6 separate regions of the Homo sapiens genome follow, and regions 2, 3, 4, 5 and 6 are each linked to region 1. Evidence: fine-mapped expression QTL. A gene starts in region 1. Each other region holds a variant in brackets. All regions are shown on one strand. Distances are from middle to middle.

Region 1 (4,000 bases):
GGAGAAAACCTGGCGTACCAGCCAGTACAAGCCAGCCCTGTCAGGGGCCTTCATGGCCTGTGGGGTGCTCTATGCCTTACACTCACTGAACACCCACCAAGAGGAGATCTTCTATGCTTTTGACACCACCACCGGGCAGGAGCGCCGCCTCAGCATCCTGTTGGACAAGATGCTGGAAAAGCTGCAGGGCATCAACTACTGCCCCTCAGACCACAAGCCGTATGTCTTCAGTGATGGTTACCTGATAAATTATGACCTCACCTTCCTGACAATGAAGACCAGGCTACCAAGACCACCCACCAGGAGGCCCTCTGGGGCTCATGCTCCACCAAAACCTGTCAAACCTAACGAGGCTTCCAGACCCTGAGACCCCAGGGCTAGGCAGAGCATTGGTAGAAGTGTGCCCTCTTCCTTACCTCCAGGAGGACCACATCCCAAAGTGGCCATTGGTCCTAATGATTGGAAGACTGATTATATCTAGTGAGTTCTTTATGTAATTAATATCTCAATCAGTACATTAAGGTTCCCTTTAATAATGGTCTAGGTGGATTTGATAGGGAAAAAGTAAAATATTAGCTAAGAAAATGGTACCCTCTCTTTCTGATGCTTTGGCATCTCATATTCCTTTTTTCATAAATCCAGCTCCCGGAACTCAAGAGTTCTGTGATCTAGAATTGTCAATCTCAGGTTGGGAACACCTGATTCCAGTGCAGAAGCTGCAGGGCAGCTGGTCATTAGAGTAGGATATGAAAGTTCCCTTTCTTATCTCCACCTTCCTGTGAGGTCCCTGGGGAGAAAAGGGGCAAGATCTTGGTCTGGTAATCAATTTTTCATTGTCCTGGATCGATCTCACTTTTGAGTGCAATTGCAAGAGAATAGGCCTGAGTCTTGCTGTAGTAAGTTAGCAACTGGCCTTATAGCATGATGAGGATCTGACATGGATGGTGCTGGGGGTCTAGATATTCTCAATAAAGAATCATTGGTTTGATAGCAGAAGGTCTCCTGGCCAACGGCCTATCATCCCTTTGCTTGTCTTCAACACACTGGGAACATATGGGCTCGAGCTTTTTGCTTGTTCCTTAGCTATCTGTGTGGTGCTCCTCCCTCTCCAGGCAGGTGGATGGAATATATAAAATCCAGACCCTGAAGGCTTCCTAGTAACACAGAATATGCATACAATTTCATATATACATTCGATAAGACATGTACACTCTCACTCATATAAATAATTATTTCCATCTGCATCTAAATAAAAACCAAACACAATTCTCCAAATTTACATGGGACCAAGAATCCAGCTTTTTAGTTGCCTGTATTTGTCCCCTTAAGAATTTTACTACTAACCACCTCCTCTCCCACCTCTTGATTTACAGACGACATTCCCCCTTAATGCTTTGACATAAAGGTGGGCACACAAGAGTGGGTTAGGACATTGAAACAAATCATTCTAAAACTTCTGTTATATTGACATGTAGAAGAGACCAAGTGATATGTGAATAAAAGGCATATTATAAAAAAGAGCTAATTCACATTTAGTTTGGCATGTGCCTATGAAGAGCCTTCCTGGTTAGCCCTACTCCTGCTTCCTAGGACAGAGGAAAATTTTCCCCACCACATGGGAGCACAATTAAATATAGAATCCCAAAATCTAGACTCTATATAAGACCCAAATTTCCAGATCATTAAAAAAATTAATGCGCTCCTTCCTATGGGAGAGACTGCATTCTTATAGGAATGTGGCTTTATCTATGGCTTCAGTAGACCCAACTTTTCATACAAGTCTAACATCCCTATAAGGAACATACACACAGTATCACACGGAAACACACATCCCACATTTAAAAATATGGTTTTTATTTACTTTTTTGTTTTCTTACTAGTTCCATCCAGAGAACTTTGTCCCTGTTTTCTGGAAAATTATTTTATTTTATTGTAGAGCCCTGGACCCCTAAATATGTCCTCCTTCCCCAGCTGGCCCAGGGTGACTGCGAGGATAGAGTTGACATCACAATATCCCTTTTCTGAGGATTCATGCCCCTGGTGGGTGGGGTAGGAGGAGGGGTAGCCCTAGGAGAAGTCATCACCACTTTGTCCACCATGGGTGAATTATGAATCAGTAGCTATGCCAGGCCTCAGCTGGGCCACATCTGGAGAACTGGGGTGAGGGCACAACATCACAAAATATCTGGCCCCAGTCTGGTCACTCATCCCTTTTAGGGCAACAAGGAAACTATCCTGTGGCCTGAGAGCACAATACCTGAGACAAAGGCCAGCAGAAACATTTGTCTGCCCTCACCCTTTCTGCCCCAGCTTCCACCTGCTCCCCATCTGCCCACCCACTAAAGCCCATGTGGCATGCCATCTCTCGAACATCCAGGATGTCCCAGAGTGGATGTCCATCAGGTCTGCTGGCAGACAAAAATATCTCTTCAAGTGCCACTCGAGTGATAGTGAAGACTGCAGGCAACCAGAAAGACTTTATGGTAGCTGATGACATCTCGGTAAGGCAGTTCAAGGAGATGCTATTGGCTCACTTCCAATGCCAGATGGACCAACTAGTGCTGGTCTTCATGGGTTGCCTTCTCAAAGACCATGACACACTGAGCCAGAGGGGCATCATGGATGGCCACACCATCTACTTGGTCATCAAGTCCAAGCAGGGCTCCAGATCTCTAGCCCATTCCTTCCGGGACCTGCCAACGAATGATCCCTGCCACCGGGACAGAAACACCAAAGGAAACAGCAGCAGAGTGCACCAACCAACTGGTATGAATCAAGCTCCAGTGGAACTGGCCCACTTTGTGGGGTCTGATGCACCCAAAGTGCATACCCAAAACTTGGAAGTGAGCCACCCAGAGTGCAAAGCACAGATGCTGGAGAATCCTAGCATCCAGCGGCTTCTGTCCAACATGGAGTTCATGTGGCAGTTCATTTCAGAACATCTAGACACGCAACAATTGATGCAGCAGAACCCAGAAGTTTCCCGCCTTCTTCTTGATAATTCTGAGATCCTATTGCAGACTCTGGAGCTGGCCAGGAACCTTGCTATGATCCAAGAGATAATGCAGATCCAACAACCTTCACAAAACCTTGAGTATCCACTGAACCCACAGCCATATCTGGGCTTAGAGACAATGCCAGGTGGGAATAATGCCCTGGGTCAGAACTATGCTGATATCAATGATCAAATGCTGAACAGCATGCAAGATCCTTTTGGAGGAAACCCTTTCACAGCTCTCCTGGCAGGACAAGTGCTAGAACAAGTCCAGTCTTCACCCCCACCTCCACCACCATCACAGGAACAACAAGACCAGCTCACACAGCATCCTGCAACCCGAGTCATCTATAATAGCTCTGGTGGTTTCTCTTCAAACACCTCAGCCAATGACACCCTTAACAAGGTCAACCACACTTCCAAAGCCAACACTGCTATGATTTCCACCAAGGGCCAGAGCCATATCTGTGCCACTCGGCAGCCAGCTTGGATACCAGCCTTACCTAGCATAGAGCTTACCCAGCAGCTTCAAGAAGAATACAAGGATGCCACTGTTTCTCTAAGTAGCTCCAGACAGACATTAAAGGGTGATCTCCAGCTGTCAGATGAGCAGAGCAGCTCCCAGATCACAGGAGGCATGATGCAGTTGCTTATGAACAACCCCTACCTGGCAGCTCAGATTATGTTGTTCACAAGTATGCCCCAGCTGAGTGAACAGTGGAGGCAGCAGCTGCCCACATTCCTGCAGCAGACACAGATTTCTGATCTGCTTAGTGCTTAGGCAACCCTAAAGCATTCCAAGCAATATTGCAGATTGAGCAGGCCCTCCAGCTGCTGGCCACAGAGGCTCCTGTTCTTCTGCCTTGGGTTGCACCCTACCTATGGGGCCTGGGTTGGCTTCCTGCCCCCAGCTGCAGCTATCCTGACACAGTGCCCTGTTCCTGGAATGTTTCAGATACAGCTGAGCCCAAGGGACCTGAGTGCTGCCACAAGCCTGGAACAGTC
Region 2 (5,077 bases), 110 kb before region 1:
CTTTTATTCCAATCAGTATCCAACCAATAGTTAGAAATACCGGGGGGCTCCAGGAGAGGAAGTAGTAGAACATGCATTCTGCCACGGGCTGTGACTTCATGTTCACAGTGAGGATGCATGTTGATGCCAAAGCTGCTGCCACCATAATGGCAAAAGAATGAGAAAAGTGCAGAGTAACCACGGTCCCACGTGTGAGAAATGACCCCACCACTTCCCAGTGTGGCTCAAGCCCAGCAGCAGTCAGGGAGGTAGAGAAGGGAACATGAGTGCCATTGGCCTGACAGAACTCCCAGGTTACCTGGTTACCATAGCTGCCAGGTGATTATACCCTTCATTTGAGTCTTCTCCTAACATCTGGACTCCTAACATCTGGATATGATAATGCAAACTTTAAGTCTCTCTGCAGGTAGATAGTAAAATTAGAGTGTCTCTACGAGTGACTTTTAGGGGAGGATGTCTTTTGAAGTTTCTAGACAATATCCTAGACACTTCTTCTGGATTCTTGGTCAGAAACTGCCAATAAGGAAAGTAGAGCCTGTTTTGACATCCAGAGACCCTGAGAGCTCAGAAACATTGTAGCATCTCCTCCCCATTCCTCTGTGCACTGAGTTCTTGCTTCAGCTACTCCTTAGAGTCCAGGGCCCAATCTATACCACATTAATGACTCTCTCCCCAAGAGCTGTAGTGTTCTGGTCAATATATCTCCAAAAAGCTATTTTTTAACATAGAATCATTTTCATTAAGCAATCCCTAATGTCTTTTTCTGTCTGTTACTTCGTGAGAATATGCTGAAAGAGTTTTTTTTCAAATTAGTTTCCAACCACCTCAACTGCCACCACTCTGGTAGAAACCACCTGAATTCAGGAAATTGTTCTTCCACTAGTCTTGCTGATACTATCATTGCCCTTCCTTTTTTTTTGAGACGGAGTTTTGCTCTTGTTACCCAGGTTGGAGTGTGGTGGCATGATCTCGGCTCACTGCAACCTCTGCTTGCTGGGTTCAAGCGCTTCTCTTGCCTCAGCCTCCCGAGTAGCTGGGATTACAGGTGCCTGCCACAACGCCCAGCTAATTTTTGTATTTTTAGTAGAGAGAGTTTCACCATGTTGGCCAGGCTGGTCTCAAACTCATGATCCACCTCAGGTGATCCACCCGCCTTGGCCTCCCACAGTGCTGGGATTACAGGTGTGAGCTACTGTGCCCACCCATCACTGTCCTTCTTCACTCTGCTCTCATCTCTGTTCTTACATCAGTAGACAGAGTGATCACCTTAAAGCAGATGTCAATCATGTCACTCTCCTGTTCAAACCCATGCCACCCAGAGCGAGGCCAGACTTCATAATGGTCCAGTTAGGTCCACATCACACATGCCTTCCCACTGCCTCAATCCTCAGAGCTCACCATATTTTTTTTTTTTTTTGAGACAGAGTCTTGCTCTTTTCCCCCAGGCTGGAGTACAATGGCGAGATCTTGGCTCACTGCAACCTCCACCTCCTGGGTTCAACTGATTCTCCTGCCTCAGCCTCCCGAGTAGCTGGGACTACAGGCATCCGCCACCACACCCGGCTAATTTTTGCATTTTTTTAGTAGAGACACAGTTTCACCACATTGGCCAGGCTGGTCTTGAACTCCTGATCTCTGGTGATCTTCCTGCCTTGTCCTCCCTAAGTGCTGGGATTACAAGCGTGAACCACCGCGCCTGGTAAGAACTCACCTTTTATGCCTCTCCAGGCACACTCCCATCTTAATCTTCCACACTGTTCTCCTTTTAAGCCCGTGGGAAAAACCATTAAAGCCTTTAATTTCCTCGCATTCTTAAGATTCTACTCAAATGTGTTCTTACAATGAAAACTATTTAAAACTTTCATAAAAACTATTTAAAGTTGCAAGGCCTTCATGAGGTCTTTACAGAGTCATTACCCTAATGTAACTTCTTGAAGATGTTACTCCATAGTATTAGTCATCTTCTTGTGTACTCTAACATTCATCGATATGGTCTATGATCACTTTCTATTTGGATGTAGGCTTCCACGTATATTTCATATTTATTGAATGTTAAATGGATGCTAATTGCACGTTTTTACATTAGCAGCCTGCTTTATAATCAATTTTATCCCATATGTTGGGTCTTGTGCCTGACTAGACGCCTCTGGGAGACAGTCAGTATGTAGGCAGACATGGATTCTACCCAGGAGTAAGGCAGAGACACAGGATGGCAGTTACAGTGAACTCTGAAGGGTGAGAGCAGAGGCCAGAATGGCATGTGTCAGAATATCTGTAACATATCAATCAAGGTGCAAATTGCTCACAAGTGAGCTTAAGATAGGACATACTCTATATCAAATTCTTAACAAGAAGATTAAATCCGTGGGCTCCTTCTGAGCCCACAATGAACAACTTCTGTTAAGTAATTGTGAGCAAAGAAAAGCAATAACAAATTGAGGTTACAAATCAATGCCAAGGTGTGTCTAAGAGGAAGAATGATGAGGAGCAAGTTCTGAGACAGGTGAAGACGCTGGTAGCACATGGGTTACTGAAGTAAAAGTAAACAGGTATGTTCAGGGATGTGCAAGGAGAGCCCTGAGAC[C/GACC]TGCAGAAAGACATAGGAACAGAGGGAACAGAGCGGTGTGCGGCAGTCACATCACTCAACCTGCTATTGTCAGGGAGGCCAAGGACTAAGAATACGTGAGGATGGCCACAGAAAGCCCCTTAGTGGTTGCCAGGAGGGCAGCAAAAGAACCCACTTCAACCCCTGGCCGTGCTCCCATGGCTCCATTCTATCTGACGCCACATACTAGGAGCTAAGCCCTGCACACACTTGGAAAACAGAGACCTCCTTTCACCAACTTCTCTTTTGAGGAGGGAGTAGGAGGTGGAAAATAAGAGATCTTCTGTTCATCTCTTTGAGAGAGAGAAAGAGAGAGAGAGAATTGTTTCCTTTGCAAGGTAGAAAATCAAAATTATACAATAGGAAGGGAATGGAAATAGATTCAGCCTGGAGGAAAAAAAGACACCCCAGAAAACAAAGGCGGCCTTCTGCCTCTTTAACACTGCTTTCAAGGCTGTCCCTCCCCAGACTCTAGGCTGCTATCAGTGTGCACTCAAAGCAGGAAGCCTGCAAGCTAGCCTTTGCTCCCGACAGAGCAGGGGAGACTTGGGGCCATAAATCAAATTCCCCTAACTTCACTGAGAACTTTTCTCCTGGAGTCTCATACCCTCTACCCCCCACAAACCTCCCCACACACCTTCAGAGCAACAGAAATCTCGGCTCCTGGTTGAAGAGGTGAAGAAAAGCCAGGGTGGGTGTGGTCAGGATTCATTCAACAAATGAGGTTCCTCTGTGTGAAGAAGTCCCTCCCTCCTGAGGAGGAACTGCCTGAGAAATGAAAGTGAAATTTTTGGGGCTGTCAGGAAGAGAAAAGGGGAAGGAGCGTCTAGGTGAAATGAGCTGTGTAGTCCTTTAGAGCCTCTGGACAGAAGGTAATGCTCTTAATCCAGTGATTCTCGAGGGCAGAATGGAGGATTTGCACTAGATGGCACATTTGGCAATGTCTGAAGAGATATTTGGTTGTTAACTAGGGGAATGCTACTGGCATCTTAGTGGGTACAGGTCACAGATGCCGCTAAGCATTCTACAATGTATGGGACAGTTCCCACAGCAAAGAATGATCCATTCCAAAACATCAATAGTGCTGTGTTTGAAAAGCCCTGTTTTAACCTTCCCTGCCTCCCAGGCCAGCTAAACACCCAACTCCCCTTCTCCTACCACTTTCATGGTTGCACATGGTCCCTCGAATCAGTTTACCAATTTGAATTATCCTTCAGCTCCAACGATCCACTTGTGTGCTACCTACCAAAGTACCATGTCACCCGCTAGGAGATGGAGGATGGGTGGCGGAGAGGTGGATGGTGCTGAGAAAAGTTGGCTACAAAGGACCTGGGGAACTTTTGGGAGTGTTGGAAATGCTCTAAATCTTTAAAAGGGGTAAAACTTTTTCAAAACTCATCAAACTGTGCACAGTAAATGGGTGCATATTATTGCATATAACATATATATCAGTAACATTATTTAAAAATGAAAAGTCTTCCAGGTAATTTTTACGCGAATCTGAGGCTGAGAACCACTAGTTGTAAGTAGTAAATCAGGAGTTTTGTGCCCTGGACAGAAAGGGCTGCTTTGAAACTGAGGTAACCTTGAAATCAAACCGAACGAGGAGGAAACTTGAACAAGAGTTGCCACTCGTTTGGTCACAGGATGACCCCACATTGTGCCTCCACAAACAGCATGCTCCATTTTCATGAGGAATATAAGTTGATAGATTCATTTTCTGTGCTGTATGCATCAAAACAATCCTAGTCTACCTCCTGTAGAGCACATTACATAATAAAAGGTGCCACCTTTGGAAACCACCTGACAAGGTACAATTTTCATTTTTGCCCTCTCCATCTGACTCATGCATGGTGATCAAGGACAATTATAAACTTGTTGGAAGTTTAACAACTTTCCCACAAAAATGTATCCACATCCAATACCTTGGGAATATGCTTTGACTACTTTTAAGGGAGTCAATTACTATCAGGTTAGTGCAAAAGTAATTGCGGCTTTTGAAATTAAAAGTATTATAAAGCCAACTGTGGTGGCTCACACCTGTAATCCCAGAACTTTGGGAGGTTGAGGCGGGCGGATCACAAGGTCAGGAGTTCGAGACCACCCTGGCTAACATGGTGAAACCCCCGTCTCTACTAAAATTACAAAAAAAAAAAAAAAAAATTAGCCGGGCATGGTGGCATGCGCCTGTAATCCCAGCTACTCAGGAGGCTGAGGCAGGAGAATTGCTTGAACCCGGGAGGCGGAGGTTGCAGTGAGCCGAGATCGCACCACTGCACTCCAGCCTGGGTGTCAGAGCAAGACTCTGTCTCAAAAAATAAAAAAATAAAAATAAACAAAATAAATAAAAGTATTATAATAGCAAGAACCGCAATTACTTTTGTACCAACCTAATACTTTCAGATTTCTTTTCCTTATTTCAATATTGGTAACTAATACATTTAGATAGTGTAAAAGGGAAGAAAATCTCGGGAC
Region 3 (5,077 bases), 80 kb before region 1:
GTGGCATATTACCAAACAATTAAACTGTTAATATATACAACAAGATAAATCTCAAAAGCATGCAAAGTGAAAGAACCCAAACATCAAATTTAAGTTATTGTATGATGCTATTTATGTGAAATCCTAGAAAAGAGAAAGCTATGGTATTTGAAAGTACATCAGTGGAAGCCAGGGCCCAGGAGTGGGAGAAAAGTTTGAACTGCAAAGGGCATAAGGAAATTTGAAGGGTGAATACATAAAGGGAAATGCCCTTTATGTATCATGATCATGGTGGTGGTTACACAGCTGACTGCAACTGTGAAAATTCACAGAACTGTATGCTTACAATTTGTAACTTACTAGATAGAACTCAATAAACTGACAGAAACAAAAAAATACAAGAAAAATTAAAAGCTTGGTTTCTGATCTTCTAAGCATAATGGAACTGTGTTGTCAAACATGTAGCCAGATATGGCTCTTGAGCATTTGAAGTGTGGCTACTCAGAAATGGGTTGCTTTAGGTACAAAATACACATTGGATTTTGAAGATTTAGTTTAAAAAAGTTAAAGGATCTTATTAATTTTTTTATGTTGATCACATGTCCTAATTGTATTTTGCATGTATTGGGTTAAATGAAATGTATTAAAATTAATTTCACCCGCTTATTTTTAATGAGGCTACTTGAGTATGTAACATTACATATGTGGCTTCATTCTATTTCTAGTTCATTATATGTCTTTTTCCTATCTAATATGCGCTGTAGATATTCATCTAATACTCTCTTTAGACAGAGAAAAATTCTTGAGCAGAAAAAAGATTTGTAAGAGTTGAGGTCTCTTGTCAAAGCTGAGGCTTGGGAAAGAAATTGTGAAGGAGGGGAGCATACAGTTAGCATAGGTGACCCTTGCCCACACACCAGCAAGCCCTGACTGCCCACTGCAGCTAAGTGCAGCCCAAGGGAGATATGGGAGGCTGCCAGTTTCCAACTGAGGCCAAGTCTCCAGAGCAGTGTGGACGGGCTGAGAGAAGGCATTCTGACTGTGAGGAGTGCAGACGAGAAGAGCCTGCAGTCCCAGAGCCCAGTGCATCAAATTAGCAGAAGAAAGAGCCCAAATTCACAACCAGGTGGGACCAATTAAATCAGAACCAGACGCCTGAAAAAGGTCTGCTAACTAGCAACACTGCAAGCACTTGGAGTTCTTTATGCAGAATCTCAGTCTTTCCTGGAATGATTCAGAATCTGCACTTTAATATTAAAGTTCTCTAGGTGATTCTTACGCACATTAAGGCTTCAGAAGCACTGCCTTAGATAAAGGACCTTCTTTCCCAGGTGGATACAATTTAGGGTGCAAAACAGCTAGAAGAGGGAGGGGGACAGAGAATGGCCTGCTATTTAGATACGAAGCATCTTTTAGAATGGAAGCTTGCATCGATATCAAAATGGCTTTCAGAATAAAAATCAGTGACTCAGCAGGGGATACTGGGGCTGGTGTAGGCTGGGGGTTCAGAGTTAGGAATGACAGAGCGGGCCCGTCCACCAGCTGGGAGCCCTAGTGAAAGTGGAATAAAATAGGTGGCAGTTGCATTTATAAGTGAGTTGGGCATGAGTTCTTGCACTTTAGGAATAACATTTTTTTTTATCTTTGTGTAGGGTTATATTTAACCTATTATCTGCAATTGATTATCTAACAGGACTCAATAAATATTTGAATTGGAACATAATCAGTTTCAAAACAAAAAATTTAATTTCCACTTCAAAAGAATTTCTACCCCCTGCATTTCAGAAACCTATAATTTAAAAATTGTTTTGATTGTGCATTTTTTTAAAGCTAGGCATGGAGTTTGCCAGTAATAATGACCATAATTTGTGTCAGGCAGCCTCCTACGTGTTTAAATCTGTCTCACTCAATCCTCACCAAAACTCTAAGATATACATATTACTCCGTCCATCTTATAGATGGAAGAAACTAAAGCTCAAAGAAGTCAAGTTAACAGTCTTCGGGCACACAGCCAGTGTCTGTCAGAGTCAGGATTTGAACACATGCAGTCTGGCTGCGGCATCTATGCTCCTAACCACACATTTCTGTCTCTATTGACTGACTGATTAAAATGTCTCTAACCTCAGTGGGGTCATTTGCAGTGAGAAAGAAAAAGAAATAAAGATATAATGAGTTCCGAAAGGGAAAGGACCTTATCTCTTTCACTGCCCTGTCACCTCTGCCAGAAGTGACAATAAGAGCCAGTCAACAGAACGGTAGACATACCTCTCTGACCCGCACATCTGGGGAATGAGAAGCCAAGAAGTTCCAGATGTAAGCAATATCAGGTGGTCAAAGCTCTTCAGAGCAATCCAAGGCACCTTAAACTAATCTTAAGGAACAGAGCGCGCTCACTCGGCTTTTATCTAAACTCAACCACGCA[C/T]GACTCTGCTCCGTTCCGTTCCGAGAAAGGCAGGGGATCCCTCCTCCGCCAGCCTTTGGCCGTTGAACGGACGGACCCACAGGTCAGGAGTTTGCGGAAGGCTCATCTCCCAACTCCTTCTGGGAGGAGTCGGGCCGCCTGGGGTGGGGGATAAACGGTGCTCACTTCCTGGAGCGGCCAGGCTGGAGATGGGGGAGGGGAAGGGGGAAGGGGGAAGGGGGAAGGGGGAAGGGGGGAAGGGGAGAACGGGGGAAGGGGGGAAGGGATGCTGACTCTGAATCCACGCCTGACAAAATGGTTTGCAGTGATTCCCTAAAGCAGTTTCCAGAGCTGCCTCCTCTACATACTTCAGCTTGTAGAATAGAGGTTTAACTCTCTTTACACGGCCTATTCCCAGCTGCAAAGGTGCCTCTTCTGTGCTCCCTTCCCAAACTTGAGTTCACTTGAAAATGCAGAAGTCTCCCTCATTCTTCTTTCACCCGTGAACCACCCCCAACCCGACCTGCAGAGCGGGTCAAACTCTCCAGACAAGTGGGGACAGCGGTAGCTGGCCAGAAAATAAACTTGCTCACTAACCTGGAATCTGTGGCCTGGATCAGAGCCAAGGACTTGAAGCAGCCGCGTCCTCCACCCAGGCCGAAAGACTCAGGGGGGAAGGGGCGGGGCCTGGGGAGGAGGAGGGTCAAATTGTCCAGCCCCGCAGGAGATCCAGCCGATTCCATGGGTGTGGTCACCAGTGACCCCTCAGGTGGTAAGGGAGATGGAGATGGTTTCTGAGGCCAGGCGCGGTGGTTCACCCCTGTAATCCCAGCACTTTGGGAGGCCGAGGCGGGCGGATAACGAGGTCAGGAGATTGAGACCATCCCGGCCAACATGATGAAACCCTGTCTCTACTAAAAATACAGAAATTAGCTGGGCGCGCCTGTGGTCCTAGCTACTCGGGAGGCTGAGGCAGGAGAATCGCTTGAACCCGGGAGGTGGAGGTTGCACTCCAGCCTGGAGACAGAGCGAGACTCTCTCTCAAAAAAAAAAAAAAAGAATTTTTGAAGGTAGCAACGCAAAGCTGTTCATCTTACCTGATGAACGGCAAATCCGGAGGCCTTTGAGAACACCAGGCCAGAGATGACCCTTGTAAATTGTCTGCAGTGTACTGTAGCTTTCTAATATCATATCAGAGTTTAATTACACTGATAATACACCTGTACTCCATATAGACGTATTAATTAAAATGTCTAAATAAACATATAAAGTTATACGAGTAAAAGCCCCTTTGCATAATGGCATGTTTTGCCAAACGATCATTAAAATTCATCAGTTTAAAATTACACGTATGTATGTATAAAGCTGTGTGTGTGTATCTGTAATTTTGACCTATATAACTAGAAGACAATCTTTGTTTTTATTTAGGTCTGATGAATACATGTAAAGCTTATTGAGCCTCAGAACTCTAACTACAGGGTTTCAATAGCACAGAAACTCTGAGAAGAAAAAGAATGTCAAAGTTCCTCCCTAAGGAGACTGATTAGGTGAGTATCACCTTGCCTTAGAAGGTGGCTTGGGGAGGGAGGTATAGAGAGAGAAGGGACTGGGGTGTCCATACAAAAGTCTGGACGGAGGATTGGGCAGTAGGGAGAGAGCTGGGTTAAGTATCAAGAGATTTCTCTGGACAGTCCCCAGGCAAATGAAAGGTCATTGGAATCTCGTAAGTGCAGACATGTGTCACTATTTCAGTGACTACCTCATGTCTGCAGGCTTAAGAAGCCACGCAAAGGTTATTTCAGATCACCCTTTGTGTAGCTTTCTTCACAACGGTTTTAGGTATGGCTGCCTCCATATTGCCCCTGGATGACGCTTCAGGTCAAAGCCTGCTTATGCTCTGAAATTCTCCTGACCCCACCCAAACTGCCCAGTATGGACACCACCCTGCCACTGGCCCAGCCAACATTTAAGTCCCTTGGAATACAAAATGGTATGATTGACACCCAGAGGGTTAGAAATATTGGAAAAGGGATGGAGAAGCCCAACCCAGAGTCCCTTCTCAGGCCATTTTCTAAGAGCTGATATAAATGGAAGTAACTTACAGGCTCCATAGTCTTGTCAGCATAGGGCTTCATTTCTGGGGCTAGTAGGCTCAGTTAAAAAAAAAGGATGTTGGCTGGGCATGTTGGCTCGCTTGTAATCCCAGCATTTTGGGAGGCCGAGGTGGAAGGATAGCTTGAATCCACAATTTTGAGGCCAACCTGGGCAACATAGTAAGACCCTGTCTAAAAAAAATAAGTAAATTGCCAGGCATAGCGGTACGTGCCTGTAGTCCCAATTACTTGGGAGGCTGAGAGGTGGGAGGATCACTTGAGCCCGGAAGGTTGAGGCTGCAGTGAGCCATGATCCTGCTACTGCTCTCTAGCCTGGGCAACACAGTGATAATCAGTCTCAAAACAAAAAAGAAAACAAAAAACAGAATGAAAGACTGTTTCTCAGTGTGCAGAATTTTTCCTTTTTGTTTGCTAACCAAGGCAGTTTTTATTTTCTCTATAATTTCTCATCTTGAACAGGGAGATTGGGCATTCTGACGGTTGAGAAGAAATGAAGGTACTTGGCAATAATTCAAGGGGTCTCGAAAAGTTAGATATAAATTTACCACATAATCCATCAAATCCACTCGTAGGAATCTACTCA
Region 4 (5,077 bases), 150 kb before region 1:
GCTACTGGGTTATAGGGTTAGAGGAAGGAGTTAAATGTAGTGCTTTCCAGGATAGTTCCTTCCATACTCCTTCTGTTCCTTTCATTGTGCCCCTCTCTGTGATTATTTGTCCTGATCGTGTTGGAGTTTTCCTAGACTATGAGGCTTGCACTGTCTCATTCTTCAATATCACAAACCATGGATTTCTCATCTATAAGTTTTCTCACTGTTCTTTTTCTCAGCCTGTATTTCCATATTTAAATCCTAGAAAATGTGGAGTCCCCATGACTCTGTGCTCACCAAGCTCTTGAACCTTCTTACACACTCAGCCCCTTCTGTACAGCACCTCTTGTCCAGGTGCATCTCATACACCTGAACTCATTTGCATCATTTTAACCATCTTTTCCTTGCTGTCTCCCTTCTTTCTATTTGAACGTCCTTCACTCATCAGTAAAATGTAATAATTGCCTTGTGCCATATTGTCCCCAATATTTTATTGACATTTGATAGCAATTTTTTTCATCATTTTCCGTACTCCTAAGGAAAACTGACCTATACCTCATAAAATGAGACCGCTATTTAGGTATTACTTCTGCCAGATATTTATCACCCAATTGCCTCTGACACTGACTAAGAAGATGAAGAAAAGCTTTTCAACAGCCTTTCTATATCATCGTGTGATAATTGTTCACCAATGAATGAGTCCTTAGCCCTGTGTCAGTTTACCCTCGATGCCCTTATTTGTGAGTTAAAGAGAAAATATCATAAATGGTATACTCTTAAGTATAGAGGTTTTGTATCTAGAGGATCTCAGTTCAACTCCTGTCTCTCCATATACCAGCAGTGTAACTGTGAATAACATACTTAAATGGCTGTGCTTATTTCCTTTTCTTTTCTTTTTTCTTTTTTTTTTTTTTTGAGATGAAGTTTTGCTCTTGTTCCCCAGGCTGGAGTGCAATGGCACGATCTCGGTTCACTGCAACCTCCACCTCTCAGATTCAAGCAATTCTCCTGCCTCAGCCTCCCAAGTAGCTGGGATTACAGGTGCCCACCACCACCCCTGGCTAAATTTGTATTTTCAGTAGAGACGGGGTTTCCCCATGTTGGTTAGGCTCGTCTAGAACCTCTGACCTCAGGTGATCCACCCGCCTCGGCCTCCCAAAGTGCTGGGATTACAGGCGTGAGCCACGGCGCCCAGCCTGTGCTTATTTTCTTAAAATAATTTTTGTATTAAAAACTTCACATTAAATAAGTGCTAATGTTTTATTGCATAGTAGGGTGACTAGAGTTAACAATAACCTATTGCATATATTTTGAAATAGCTAGAAGAGAGGATTTTGAAAGTTCTCAACACAAAGAAATGACACATATTTGAGGTGATGGATATGCTAATTACCCTGGTTCGGTTATTACGCAATGTATACATGTATCAAAACATCACACTGTACCACATAAATATGTATATTTATTATTTGTCAATTAAAAGCAAAATAAAACAAAAAACCTTCATCTAATACTTTGGATCATTGTGAAAAAATAAATTCCTGAAGTATAAAGCATCTATCTAAGTGTCTTGATCTAATAAGTACTTGTTCTACAAATTATTGAAAAACATAAACTCTGTTAATGTCTCATGGAACAGGTTGTGCCTTCAGGGAAACTAGGATTGGATTTACTAAATTCTCATTTTTTAGATCTCAGATACTACTGTCAAAATGACTTCAATTCTGCCTTCTATATATAATACACACATATATTTAGGATTTTATTGTAATTCTAGTGTTGCTACATATTAGTCTTTATCAAACAAACTGAATTATGTGGGAATCAGTTTATTAATTGTAAAAAATAATTATAATAAAATTAGCTGATGTAGTTTTTTAAAAGTTAAACGAGTTTTTTGAATAGCTTCACTCATTTCTAGCATGTAAGGGGTAATCCATTATGGTGTTGGGCTTTTTTGTTTGTTTGTTTGTTTGTTTGTTTGTTTGTTTTGAGACAGGGTTTGTCTCTGTCACCCAAGCTGGAGTGCAATGGCACGATCTCGGCTCACTGCAACCTCCATCTCCAGGGTTCATCCTTCCACCTCAGCCTCCTGAGTAGCTGGGACTACAGTCACGCACCACCACGCCCTGGTTATTTTTTGTATTTTTGGTAGAGACAGGGTTTCACTATGTTGCCCAGGCGGATCCCGAAGCCCTGGGCTCAGGCGATCTGCCCACTTTACCTCCCAAAGTGCTAGGATTATAGGTGTGAGCCACCATGCCCGGCCTCATT[A/G]TGGTGTCTATTAATTTTTGGTTCCCTCTCACTGTGACTGAAAGCAATAATTTTTAACAATATGTAATAGTTCTTTTCAAAATTATCTTTCTCCCTTCGTTTGAAGAAATACAAGAACTAAGTTAAAAATCACAGATTTTTCTTGTAGAAAGTTTTAAAATAAGTGTTTATAAATGGGAAAAAAAATCTTTGTTCTTAATTTCATAGCTGCCTAGTCTTAAGTTGTTTTAAGTATTTCTGAGTACTCTAATTTCATTGTAAATTTTTCCTGTTTGCCAAGTAGTAAAAACGTATTTTGCACAGTGATGCAGATAAAGTCAGAAGTACATGTGGCATTTCTCAACAATGGTATCGATAAGTGAATTGTGAGCCCAGGTTAGCCTGACTCTTCATTAAAGTAACAAAGGCATGGTAATTTTCATAAATGACAAAAAAATACTTGTTCTCCTTGTTCAGTGAGGAGAATTATTTTTGCAACGGATGTTTATGAAGGGCATGGTAGGATCCCTATGTCTATTGGCATTTTTATTTCCAACTCTTTCCCAAGTTTTGAGCTGAAGTTTTTTGTTTTGTTTTAATGGTCTACCTCATCAAATAGTCTCTGCTCTTCACCCTGCTTCCCCACAGAAATTTTAAGGTCTCTATCTTTGTGGTAACTTTAGTCAGAGAAGGGATTCCAAGGTGAATATTTTCAGTAACTATGTGTGTGCACACACCTCTCTACCTCAGCACCATCCAGGGAAACCGAGGAGGTTGATGCTATAAATTTTCCCTTTTACCTCTGCTTTCCTGTCACCCAATGCTATGAAGATTGAGGCTTTCACTCACTGGGAACAGTCTGGACTAGCTTGAATTATTGGCAAGTGACTCTCCAGGGACATTAATGCCTTTTCATTTCCTGGAAAGCCAAGTCCCACAGCTCAGGATGAAGTACCCAGTTACACAACAATAAAGACCTGAATTTGTATATACAACAGAAAAGATCTGCACACTGAAGGATTTTTTCAAACAGATGCTCCTGGCCCTAGTAATGAACCTCTCAGCTGAAAAGAATATGAAGCTTATGAATTGCTCTGAGTTACACTCCGTCTTCTCAGTAAAAGGCTGAAGAAGGCAACCTGTGCTCCAAAAGGCTAATGGACGTCAACTGTGGATTTTCTCTCTGCCTGTGTATCAGTTCTAGGATGTTCCCTCCCCATCACTTCTGAACCTCTGAGTAACAATTATGTCGTCTTCTATTCTGAGACTTCAGATCTATGCTGGGCCATTAATTAGGCATATCTGGCTAGAATTTTGGTACAATCTGGGGAGAAGCACAGAGAAAAGAGGTTGTGAAAAAAAACAGGGATTGCTTGAAGACTGTTCTGCAGGACACTGAGTAAAGAATGGGAGCAGGCCTCAAGCAGAAACCAGTGGGAGGACAAAGAATACGAAGAAGCAGAATGAGAGTTCGTAGGGGCTAAAGAGAAGGTGCCCTGATGAAGAGCCAATTCTAAGATTCAAAGGGAGAGAAAAGTAAAAGAACGTTTATATGATGTGTTGGAGGGATGGGATGGAATAAGCATCGGGCAGAGGAGAGCTCTTTGGAAAAGAGATCTCTTTGGTTTTTTTCTTTGGACATTGCAACCAATACTCCTTCTTGATGCTATACTTGTCACAAGGTAACAATTATGTTCTGAGCTCCTTGATCCTATTCAGTATCAATAAGATACATAAGTTAAATCTCATAATATGCCTAAACATATATCTAATCTTTTTTTTTTTTTTTTTTTTTTTTTTTTTTTTTTTTTTTTTTTTTTTTGAGACGGAGTCTCTCTCTGTCGCCCAGGCTGGAGTGCAGTGGCGCGATTTCGGCTCACTGCAACCTCCACCTCCTGGGTTCACGCCATTCTCCTGCCTCAGTCTCCCGAGTAGCTGGCACTACAGGCACCTGCCACCATGCCCAGCTAATTTTTGGTATTTTTAGTAGAGTCAGGGTTTCACCGTGTTAGCCAGGATGGTCCCGATCTCCTGACCTCAAGATCCGCCCGCCTCGGCCTCCGAAAGTGCTGGGATTACAGGCGTGAGCCACTGCGCCCGGCCTATCTAAACTTAATAATATCTTTGTATTAACCACCATACTCCAACACCACCATTATTTTCTTTCTGAATTATGTGGCAGTGCAAAACATTACAACCACACTGAAAAAAAAATCCGGCAGTTTGGTAGAGAAAGAAAGCGTAAAATCAATCAATTTAACATATAGTTAAAGATTGTCTAGAGTGAGCAAAACTGAGGTTCTATTTCCATTAATGAAGGTATATATTCTAATAAAACTGCATGCCCTCACCCACAGATCCAACATTAGAAACCTTGGACAAAATGTAAAAATCAAACCTGAAGGCACTAGAAAGTGACAAGCAATCAGAATATTCAGGGTAATAGACACTTAGAAAAAGACAACAGTATTGGGGGAGTTTCCTGTTTCTGTGGCTTTTCACTTGAAGGCAGACCTCAGTTGTTACTGGGTAGAACACTAAAAACTCAGTTAACAATATATGTACTTGCTGCTTTGAAAAACAAGAATGAGCCGGACGCAGTGGCTTACGCTTGTAATCCCAGCACTTTGGGAGGCTGAGGTGGGCAGATCACAAGATCAGGATTTCGAGACCAGCTAGGCCAATATGGTGAAACCCCGTCTCTACTAAAAACACAAAAATTAGCCGGGCATGGTGGTGGGCGCCTGTAGTCCCAGCTACTCAGGAGGCTGAGGCAGGAGAATCGCTTGAACCCAGGAGGCAGAGGTTGCAGTGAGCCGAGATCTCGCCACTGCACGTCAGC
Region 5 (5,077 bases), 100 kb before region 1:
GTATAAAACCAAGCTGTGCCCTGACCACCTTGGGTACATGTTGTCAGGACCTCCTGAGGCTGTCATGGGTGCATCCTTAACCTTGGCAAAATAAACTTCCTAAATTGATTGAGAGTTTTCTCAGATACTCTTTCATTTACAATAGTAAAGCATCAGACAGATTTGTTAAAGCATGTGTTGAGATGTGTATATTACCTTAGCCCATCAGTTCTGTGTGGATGACATTCAATTTTTCATCATTCATTTTGTTCACTTGAGTTTTTTCCGGTTTTTTTTATTTGTTTGTTTGTTTTTTTGAGATGGAGTTTCGTTCTTGTCGCCCAGACTGGAGTGCAATGGCATGATCTTGGCTCACCGCAACCTCCGCCTCCCAGGTTCGATTCTCCTACCTCAGCCTCCTGAGTAGCTGGGATTACAGGCATGCGCCACCACGTCCAGCTAATTTTTCTTTTTTTCTTTTTTTTTTTTTTGAGAGGTAGTCTCGCTCTGTCGCCCAGGCTGGAGTGCAGTGGCGTGATCTCGGCTCACTACAAGCTCCGCCTGCCGGGTTCACGCCATTCTCCTTCCTCAGCCTCCCAAGTAGCCGGGACTACAGGCACCTGCCACAACGCCCGGCTAATTTTTTGTATTTTTAATAGAGGCAGGGTTTCACCATGTTGGCCAGGATGGTCTCAAACTCTTGACCTCATGATCTGCTTGCCTCGGCCTCCCGAAGTCCTGGGATTACAGGTGTGAGCCACCGCGCCCAGCTGAGTTTTTTCCTTTTTAAAAAACTCATTTCTCTGAGTTCAATGGACATGCAACTATGCTATGTCTTTAATGTCTTTTTGTTATTTTCTTAACAACTGTCTAGTCTGAACCCCGAAAATCTGAGACAGATCTCAGATAATATAGAAAGTTTATTTTACCAAGGCTGAAGACATGTGTCCCTGACAGCCTCAGGAGGTCCTGACAACATGTGCCCAAGGTGATCAGAGCACAACTTGGTTGTATACATTTTAGAGAGACATGAGACATCAATCAATAAATGTGAGATGTACATTGGTTCCATCTGAAAAGGCAGGACAACTCAAGCAGGGAGGGGGCTTCCAGGTCACAGGTTGGTGAAGGACAACCTGTTGCATTCTTTTGAGTTTCTGATTAGCCTTTTCAAAGGAGTCAATCAGATAGGCATTTATGTCAGTGAGCAGAGGGATGACTTTGAATAGAATGGGAGGCAGGTTTGCCCTAAGCAGTTCCCAGCTTGACTTTTCTATTTGGCCTAGTGATTTTGAAGCTCCAAGATTTATTTTCCTTTCATACTACCAACATATAATATATTAATGGTAGAAAAATCATCACTTTTGGAAACTCTTAGGCATTCTTCTGGTGCCTCACTCTCAGCTGAGCTGTGCTTCTGGATAGCAGAAATGACCTGGACAGAAAAATGAGCAAGTTTAGTCATTCAAGAATATGCAGCTATTTCCATGGGCATGTACTTAGAGCTCTATGTAAACAGGAGTGGCTAACAAGAGTTGGCAAGGGTCATATCCTCAAGGCTTGTTTACACAGGCAGAGAGAGCCAGCTGGGAAATTATCTAGAGACACCAGTGCAGGAGTAAAGTATCTGTCTTCTCAGATCCCTCTGGCTTTACTCACACCATTCTCCCAGGTCCCAAAGCCCTGAAAATGAAAGTCATAAATATCCCAAAAGAGTTACCTGGAATTTAAGAGAGTGCAGCAGCCTGGAGTGATCCAGAGCCTCGGGCATTGCAATAAAGGGGTGACTGGGATGCAGGGGTTAAAGGAAAATGGATAGAAGTGAATTTCCTCCAGTTGCTATGGATGAGTGCTGGAGATAGGAATGTGTGTCTACACATAGAGAAACTGCCTGTATCTAACTTGGAATCGCTTCCCCCACCAAAGGTCACCAAGATATGGGGACTAAAAATATTCTAGTAAAGCTGGGACCAGAACAGTAACTGCTTTACTAGTTTAGAAGCAGAGAAAGGATAGTTGGCAACAAAAATGCCAAAAGACACAGGGACTCTACCATATATACTATGTGAACACTGCACAGCAGCTTTTGCCTTGCTATCTCACTGTAGGAGCAGAACAGGCTTTGCTTCATTCCTGAGGTCTACCAGAGCCTCTCACTTAATGGAAAGAAGAAGCTAATCTGGAGGAAGAGAACACTGACAAACACCATTGCAGAGGGAGCCCATGACAGTACTTCTGCCCCTCCCACCGTAAGGCATAATGTGCACCCATAACCTGAAAAATGGAGACTTAGCTGGGCAGACAGAGAAAGTGATTTCCAAAGAAAGAGAATTACTACAGAAGTAGAAAAGAATACCAGGAACTTCCAGTTTTAGTTCCAACATGTAAAGAGCTTGAGACTCATTACTG[C/T]AACCCTCACAAGAGAAAAAAAGCTTGGCTGGACGCAGTGGCTCACTCCTGTAATCCCAGCACTATAGGAGGCTGAGGCGGGCGGATCACGAGTTCAGGAGTTAGAGTCCAGTCTGGCCAAGGAATTCGAGACCAATCTGGCCAACATGGTGAAACCCCGTCTCTACTAAAAATACAAAAGCTTAGCTGGGTGCAGTGGCGCGCGCCTGTAGTCCCAGTTACTTGGGAGGTTGAGGCAGGAGAATCCATAGAACCCAGGAGGCGGAGGTTGCAGTGAGCCGAGATCCCGCCGCCGCACTCCAGCCTGGGCGACAGAGTGAGACTCAGTCTCAACAAAAAAAAAAAAAAAAAAAAAAAAAGAAGAAAGAAAAGGAAAAAAAAGCTAAACCAACTAAAAATCAATGACTTTCCTAAGTCTCATCAGATAAAGTCACAGGAAAAAAACTGCCACCCCAAAATGTAGAGACAGGTAAACACAGAATAAACAGCCTAAATCTGCTTACCTGAAGCAGAAGTTGCATGAGTCAGGACGGGCGCAGTGGCTCACACCTGTAATCCCAGCACTTTGGGAGGCTGAGGCGGGTGGATCACTTGAGGTCAGGAGTTTGAGACCAGCCTGGCCAACATGTCGAAACCCTGTCTACAAAAATACAAAAATTAGCCGGGCATGGTGGTGGGCGCCTGTAATCCCAGTTACTCGGGAGGCTGAGACAGGAGGATCGCTTGAACCCAGGAGACAGAGGTTGCAGTGAGCCGAGATCACACCACTACTCTAGCCTGGGCAACAGAGTGAGGCTCAGTCTCAAAAAAAAAAAAAAAAAAAAAAAAAAAAAAAAAATTTAAAACAGGAGTTGCCTGAGTCATATACTGGTAGGAACACTTAAATAGTAGTTCTGACAAATTGCCGGAGGCTGATTATGGACTAGCTTGAGAGAGAGAAACTCCTAGCACCTAGACTTAGGGCCCCGCCCCCGCCCCACTTGCTTGGAATTTACCTCCAAAAACCAAAGTGAGTTCCCATAGTGGAAAGCCAAGAAAAAGATCCTTTCTTTTCTGGCAGAGAGAGAGTAAAAGAACCATTCTGAAATATGTTCAGAGCATCCCCCATAACAAAGGCCTACTCTCCACTGGAAAAGACTGGAAAGCAGAATGCTTTCTCCAAATAAGACAAAGAACTGAAGATTCCTGTACTTCTCTGGCAACAGAATGAAGGAGGCGTATTCTTGTACGATCATGTGGTTACCACTGAAACTGTTTTGAGGACATCAAAATATTGATAATGGCAATCTGTTGGCCTTTATGGTACAAAATGCCTGAGAGGCAGGGACAGCTATTCCATATGCAGAGTAGATGTCAACTTTTGTCAATAAGTACTTGCAGAGGCTCTTTTTAGGTAATAGGAGTACCAAGTCCACTTGCTACATACACAAAGCTGGTCGTTTTTCCCAGGGAGTTCATATGACTCAGGCTACCCTCATATCACCGTTTGCACACAATACATTGATTCACACATTCTTCATTTTCTCCAGGATTACTGTGAATTTTTACCCAATGACATGAAGCCTGCTCATGTGAGTGATATAAAATGGCTTGTCCTTATCATGCTACACTGATGTTTCCCAAATAAGTCACGGTTTTAGCTTTGTCACTGTTTCTCTCCCAAATCTGCCCTTAATGAGATTTGTGTCCTCCTTATGTCTTATAATTGTACAAAGCTTAAAATAGAATTTCCTCTCATAGTCCAATCTTTTCTCCCCCAGAGTATACTACATTTGATGCTATCTATAATCAATCAAGGTTCAAGAATCAAAACAATCATGTACTTGTGCCATTGTTTTATAGTAGATTAATCAATATGCAATGTATACAGTTTATCATCTAGGTTAATTTTCTCTCTTCTTTTACCCTGTATATCCATTGACATTCCTGACTGTGGTGTTAAAATTTGCATATGAAATGATTTTATTTTGTTTTTCAACATAAGCTTTCAACTTAAAGTTTTCATCATTATCTTGGTCACGTAAGCTAGACCCCAAGTTTAATATTACTTATATCATTTATGAGTAATATAGGAGTCTATTCCTTCATTAGGCCTAAGATTACATTTTGAGCATTATACATTACTTTGACTATTTGTTTGTTTGTTTGTTTGTTTTTGAGATGGAGTCTCACTCTGTTGCCCAGGCTGGAGTGCAGTGGTGTGATCTCGGCTCACTGCAACCTTTGCCTCCTGGGTTCAAGCGATTCCCCTGCCTCAGCCTCCCAAGTAGCTGGAATTACAGGCGCGGGCCACCATGCCCGGCTAATTTTTGTATTTTTAGTAGAGATGGGGTTTCACCATGTTGGTCAGGCTGGTCAAACAGTAAATATTTTAGGATTTGCAGGTCAAGCAGTCTCTGTTGCAACCAGTCAACACTGCTGTTGTAACTTGAAAGCAGTCACAGATGATACATAAATAAGCATGGTGATATTCCAATAAAGTACATTTACAAAAATAGGTATCAAAGTAGGATTTGACTCACACACTGACCTTTTCAGATTTCTAACAGACAGAAATGAATAAAAATGTTGCCTCTGAATTTTGCTGCCCTGTTTTGTAGGTCAATTCTGCCACTTCATATGTGTCCAACTTTGAGCAAATTCTTTCATCTCACTGTACCTCCATTTTCTCATTTTTTTTAAAAAAAGG
Region 6 (5,077 bases), 130 kb before region 1:
AACAATTGATTCATCTCAGTCAGATACTTTAGAAGAGTATGAAAAGGTGACATCTTAGTGTCTAAAACTGTACACCTACTTGACAATATAGAGCTTTTCTAAACACACAAAATTCAGACCACTATTAGTTTGGTATTCATAAAATCCCCTTTGCCAAGTATTGGTAATTTTCCCCAAAAAACATGGAACCTCAGATATTATCTGAGCACTTCTCTAGTGGAAATAGGCTTTGAAGGTCTTAGGCCTCTCCAGACAGGATTCCTCTCCTGATACGTCTCAAACACCCAGGAGCCAGGTCCTGCAACCTCACTGTCTAACCATCTTTCTGGTAACCCACATCCATAGCAATGATGTTTCCACACATTAAATCGTTTTGTTAAGGCACCAAAGTTTTTTTGTTTGTTTTTTTTAAAATCCATTATTTCTTCATGTCCTATGAGCTCAAGAAGGTAGAGAGGGAGAGATTAATTATTTCATTTTGGAAGGAAGAAACTGTGCTTCTGAGAGGTTAAGACCATCCCATGGTCATACAGAGAGTAAGGGAGAAAGTGGACACGAGTACATTTTGTCTGGTTCTAGGGTCAAGGGTCTGCCCTCTCCCTTCTCAGGGAACAGAGTTCAAGTACATCAGTGGGGTGAAATGATAGGAAATCAGTGGTGTCCAAGGGTTACAAAGTCAGAGGTTTGGGAGTCAATTTTTTTTCATTCCTAGGGGTGAGAATTTGACTTAAGCTAAAAACGTTTCCCAAAGAATAAAGGGAAGTGTGTTGAGCTTCTCATCTAAGAGGAATGCTTCAAGCGTGTAAAGATGAGAAGAGCTAGAACAACTAGATCTGCAGTAGTCTAGTGGTGGCAGGTGCTAGACAGGGAAGAGAGCAGTTTCTAGGCGTAGATGGAAGAGATAAGGGAGGATGGACATTGTGTGCTGATGATGTGGTCATATTTGATGGAGAATAACCAAGAGACTGTTTCATGCTATTATTCGCAAATTCATTGCCCTAACATAGTCCCCTCCTCTTTCTCTGTTCTGGAGAAAAAATTGACGTCAGTGCTGCCTCCTTTGCATATAGTCAATATTATGAATTTTTATCATTTCAGAGTGGACAGACATCCAGTGCTACTGTGGTAAAATGATATTTCCAAAAAAGCTGTGCCTCTGGTGGTTGGAATTCTGGGAAGAAACATGAGGGTGGTTGGTGTATTTGGGGATATGTGTGTGTGTACGTGTGTATATGTATATTTATATAATATACATGTATATTAAAATGTATACATTTATATGTATTATACATATATAATCTAATATATTTATGTGTACTATACATATGTATATATGTATTATATATAATTATAAATTACACATATGTTATAAATACATACACATATTAATATACATTTAATATACATGTTTTATATATCTATATATATATCTATATATATCTATATATAGATATATATATATATATTTTTTTTTTTTTTCCAGAAGACTAGATGAGATGAAGAGAGCAGTTGTCACATCTGGGTAAAAGTCTCATCATCAGGGCAAAGAACAGGTGGGAATGTATCCAGAGAATCAACATACAATGAGCAAAAGTGAAGCTTTTCCTAGACTTGACCCTCATCAAATCTCCTCTGTCCCCACTCTCTTCTGAAGAAGGAAAGGTAGGCCTGTCTTTTTTTCTTCCTGATTGTAGAACTGACCCAAAACATTAGACCTTCAAAAGTACTCTCATTCTATGCACTTGAACACATATAATTTTATAATGTTTACATCATTTTATTATTGTGGTTCTACGGAATTTTCTGCTTCTTCCTGATTGTAAGATTGTTAATTTTAACCTATTCATTTTACAGAGATTTAAAACCTAGCATTGAATTGTATGACAATGTTTCATAATTTTTTGGTGATCTATATAACAAACCACTTTTTTCACAGTTTTTTTTTTTTTTTTTTGAGACAGAGTTTTGCTCTTGTTGCCCAGGCTGGAGTGCAGTGGTGCAATCTCAGCTCACTGCAACCTCCGCCTCCCAGGTTCAAGCGATTCTCATGCCTCAGCCTCCCAAGTAGGTGGGATTACAGGGGCTCGCCACCACATCCAGCTAATTTTTGTATTTTTAGTAGAGACAGGGTTTTGCAATTTTGGCCAGGCCAGTCTTGAACTCCTGACCTCACGTGATCCTCTCTTCTCGGCCTCCCAAAGTGCTGGCTGGGATCCCAAAGTGCTGGCTGGGATTACCGGCATGAGCCAAGGCACCCAGCCTATCGTACTTTTTTATTGTTGTACTAACTTAAATTTTTTTTGTCAAATATAATCACTTTTTTATCCTAACATT[A/T]GCAGGAACAGGAACATCTCTGGCAAGAGTGGGAACAATACAGAGACAGGAGGAAGTGCCACACTCTTAAATAACCAGATCTCCCAAGAACTCACAGCAAGAATGTATTCATTACCATGGGGATGGTGCGAGGCCCTCCATGAGGCCCCCATGATCCAATCACCTCCCACCAGGCCCCACCTCCAACACTGGGGATTACATTTCAACATGAGATTTGGGCAGGACAAAAATCCCAACTATTTCAAGGATTCTAGTTAATATTGTATTGTCTACTGGGAATTTGCTAAGAAAGATTTTAAATGCACTAACCACCACCCCCCCGACACACGGTAACTATATGATACAGTGGATGTATAATTTACTTGGCTGTAGTAATCACTTTACCATGTAAGTGTGTATCAAAACATCATAGTATATATATCTTAAATATGTACAATAAAAAAGAAAAAAAACAGTCCCACTCTCAGTATAAAAAGTTCTATAAAACAAAACTAAAATTGGAGTGGTCTTAACAGTGGAGTCTGGGAACTTGAAAAATGAGACTTCAGTAAAATCAACTACTATTCCTCTGAAGGCCACAAAACTATTGCACAGGACATTACTACAGCTCACACTTTTTAGCAATCATGAGAGCAAATATTTATTATGTTCCAGACACTAAATCGATGCATTACATTTAGAGACACTTAGTTTTACACAGTGATCTTAATAGTTAGGTACAGTCTTAAATCCCAATTTATATTTCAGGAAAAAGAAACTGAGAAAGTATTCATCATGATTAGAAAACAACAGGCAAGGTTTGAGCTCAAATACTCTGGACATAAAATCTTCACTCTGAATACACATATTGCTCATATTTTCCTCTCCTTGATTCCTTGATGTACCTGGGGTATCCTGAGCAACACACTGACATACCCTCCAAGAACCTTTAGTTGATGTTGGTGGTGGTCATGGGGGTGGTTCCTATGGACTACCTAGGTAGCATGGATGGTGGCTAACAGGCTTTGGGCCTCTTCATATCAGTGATAAAGTGAAACATGGATAAATGGGAAGGCAAGGATGTTATACCCATACTGCTGTGTCTTTAGGAGGGATTAGGTAACTTTCTCTGAAAATATGAAAAAGAGTAAATGAATAAATAAGCATCTCTCATAACTCAAGCCAAATACACCATACATCTCAAGGATGAGTAAAAGTTCTAAAGAAGGGAAACCACAAGGAAGCAATGGTGTGAATGTTGCAGATGAGTCAGTTGCAGGAGATAAGTCAAGACAAAGGGTTGTAGGTGAAGAAATGAGAAAATTCAAGAGCTTGGTGGGCATAGAGTCATGGGAGCTGGACAGTTCCAAGGATTGAAATATGGATAAACAGGCTGAGAAAAGCAACATTTAGAGAACTTGTAAATGAGGGAGCCATGGCTTGTGACATTGAAAAATGAGACAATGCCTGCTTCATAGTCGAGGAAAACCCCAACACGGCAGGGAGGCACAGCCATGGAGAGAGTCAAAACCTCGGGATCAGAGGACAAAGACTCTTCAAAGACACCATACTTACATTTATTCTGTAACCCTATAACCCAGTAGCCAAATAGAGGTCTGTATTTGGTGTAAAGATTTTGACGATTTGCACATCTTCTAACAACATACTTCATATGGCGGGAATATGTTCTACAGTATACCCCCAGGATCCAGGCAGTTTTCTTGGACACGTCCACTTCCCAGTAATGTTTCCCAGAGGAGAAATATTGGGATCCCAAGACACCATAATTATAACACTGAAAAGGCCAAATTGGCACAGATATCACTTGTCTCTGATCTTCTGAAAGGACAAGATTCAAATTTAGGTTGACTGAATTCAGTGTGACATCCACTGCAAGAAAAAAAAAAATATATATATATGTATATGAATATAATCATCTGTGTGATATATATGATTAGGTGACAGATATGGAGTAGGTTTATCTAGTGACATGGTGATGAACGAACTTGGGAAGTGACTGAAAAACTTGCACTGATGAATTGGAGGGGTAAAACACTGGAGAAATGTATTTAGCAAATGTTTTGGGAGGTGCTGAGAATGCATGAGGCTAAGATCAGAAGATATCATTGAAACCATAAACTTCTGAAAGGTAATTGGAAAACAGTTATTTAAAGACTAACTTTTTCTTACCCCAGTAGCACCGGACAGCTGTCAGTTCTGAAATAATAAAAGATTCAGTGATGCTGATTAGAAACAAAGGAGTAAGCACTGATACCTATATATTCTTTAGAGTAGGGACAGGGGAAGGGAATACCATGAAGCTGTGAGCTAGTGAATTAAAAAGATAAACCAGAGACCTAGCCATTTTTCCTTACATATAAATGCATCCTCTTCACCACAGAATATTCCTTATTCTCTGACCTCCCTCCTCTCTTCTGTCCTCAATTTTAAGTTATCCCACCTAGACAGTTTATTACCTGACACCACAACAATCCCACATCCACAGTCTTTGTCTGCTTCTCCTCACCTCTAAACATTTGCAGCATCCTACTCAGATCTGGAGCATGGAATACAGTCTTCAGTTTCTTGGAAACCATTTTTGGCTTTTTCAGCCTCCAGATCTCACTCCTAGGGATGAAAAAAATTTTTTGACCCCCACATCTCTCATCCTGTGTCCATCCCTCCCACATCACTGGTTTCATCTCCTTCACATCACTGATGCACTTGAACCCTTCTCCCTGAGCCTGAGGAGGGGGAGAAGGGA

Alleles and levels. Positions count from the first base shown, and alleles are read on the strand shown. Sizes are in standard deviations (SD) of each study's normalised expression. Not every link is listed here.
In carriers of allele T in region 3, the expression in esophagus mucosa of the gene that starts at base 2,091 in region 1 tends to be higher than with C alone (moderate effect, 0.41 SD a copy in GTEx).

Evidence for each region.
Region 2: its variant is fine-mapped to the expression of UBQLNL in lung (GTEx, PIP 0.95). The same link has a PIP of 0.9 or more in Th2 cells.
Region 3: its variant is fine-mapped to the expression of UBQLNL in esophagus mucosa (GTEx, PIP above 0.99). The same link has a PIP of 0.9 or more in lymphoblastoid cells.
Region 4: its variant is fine-mapped to the expression of UBQLNL in sun-exposed skin (GTEx, PIP 0.97).
Region 5: its variant is fine-mapped to the expression of UBQLNL in whole blood (INTERVAL, PIP above 0.99).
Region 6: its variant is fine-mapped to the expression of UBQLNL in whole blood (TOPMed, PIP above 0.99).

The regions. Positions count from the first base shown.
Region 1 is chr11:5,514,790-5,518,789 of GRCh38, reverse strand. It overlaps UBQLNL (ubiquilin like), which reads left to right and starts at 2,091. Exons shown (of 1, transcript NM_145053.5): 1 at 2,091-4,000. The coding sequence starts at 2,349. The coding sequence ends at 3,776. It also overlaps the pseudogene OLFM5P.
Region 2 is chr11:5,623,223-5,628,299 of GRCh38, reverse strand. All of the region lies in intron 7 of TRIM6-TRIM34 (TRIM6-TRIM34 readthrough), which reads right to left. It overlaps TRIM34 (tripartite motif containing 34), which reads right to left and starts at 3,299. Exons shown (of 8, transcript NM_021616.6): 1 at 3,240-3,299. It also overlaps a transcript of TRIM5 not described here. RefSeq lists enhancers at 2,781-2,880, 3,251-3,520, 3,611-3,690. The variant C/GACC (reference allele first, on the strand shown) is at 2,585.
Region 3 is chr11:5,594,082-5,599,158 of GRCh38, reverse strand. It overlaps TRIM6 (tripartite motif containing 6), which reads right to left and starts at 2,522. Exons shown (of 8, transcript NM_001003818.3): 1 at 2,245-2,522. The coding sequence starts at 2,261. It overlaps TRIM6-TRIM34 (TRIM6-TRIM34 readthrough), which reads right to left and starts at 2,522. Exons shown (of 14, transcript NM_001003819.4): 1 at 2,245-2,522. The coding sequence starts at 2,261. It also overlaps a transcript of TRIM5 not described here. RefSeq lists enhancers at 2,538-2,587, 1,834-2,751, 2,906-3,200. The variant C/T (reference allele first, on the strand shown) is at 2,402.
Region 4 is chr11:5,660,022-5,665,098 of GRCh38, reverse strand. TRIM5 (tripartite motif containing 5) reads left to right here. Exons shown (of 8, transcript NM_033034.3): 8 at 1-1,904. The coding sequence ends at 290. It overlaps LOC107984302 (a long non-coding RNA gene), which reads left to right and starts at 4,267. Exons shown (of 2, transcript XR_001748100.1): 1 at 4,267-5,077. The variant A/G (reference allele first, on the strand shown) is at 2,257.
Region 5 is chr11:5,617,838-5,622,914 of GRCh38, reverse strand. All of the region lies in intron 7 of TRIM6-TRIM34 (TRIM6-TRIM34 readthrough), which reads right to left. It also overlaps a transcript of TRIM5 not described here and a transcript of TRIM34 not described here. Among named protein-coding and RNA genes, the nearest start is that of TRIM34, 4.6 kb to the left of the region's middle. RefSeq lists an enhancer at 874-1,482. The variant C/T (reference allele first, on the strand shown) is at 2,389.
Region 6 is chr11:5,642,270-5,647,346 of GRCh38, reverse strand. TRIM6-TRIM34 (TRIM6-TRIM34 readthrough) reads right to left here. Exons shown (of 14, transcript NM_001003819.4): 12 at 4,841-4,941; 13 at 4,504-4,530; 14 at 2,949-4,203. The coding sequence ends at 3,638. It overlaps TRIM34 (tripartite motif containing 34), which reads right to left. Exons shown (of 8, transcript NM_021616.6): 6 at 4,841-4,941; 7 at 4,504-4,530; 8 at 2,949-4,203. The coding sequence ends at 3,638. It also overlaps a transcript of TRIM5 not described here. Among named protein-coding and RNA genes, the nearest start is that of TRIM34, 20 kb to the right of the region's middle. The variant A/T (reference allele first, on the strand shown) is at 2,335.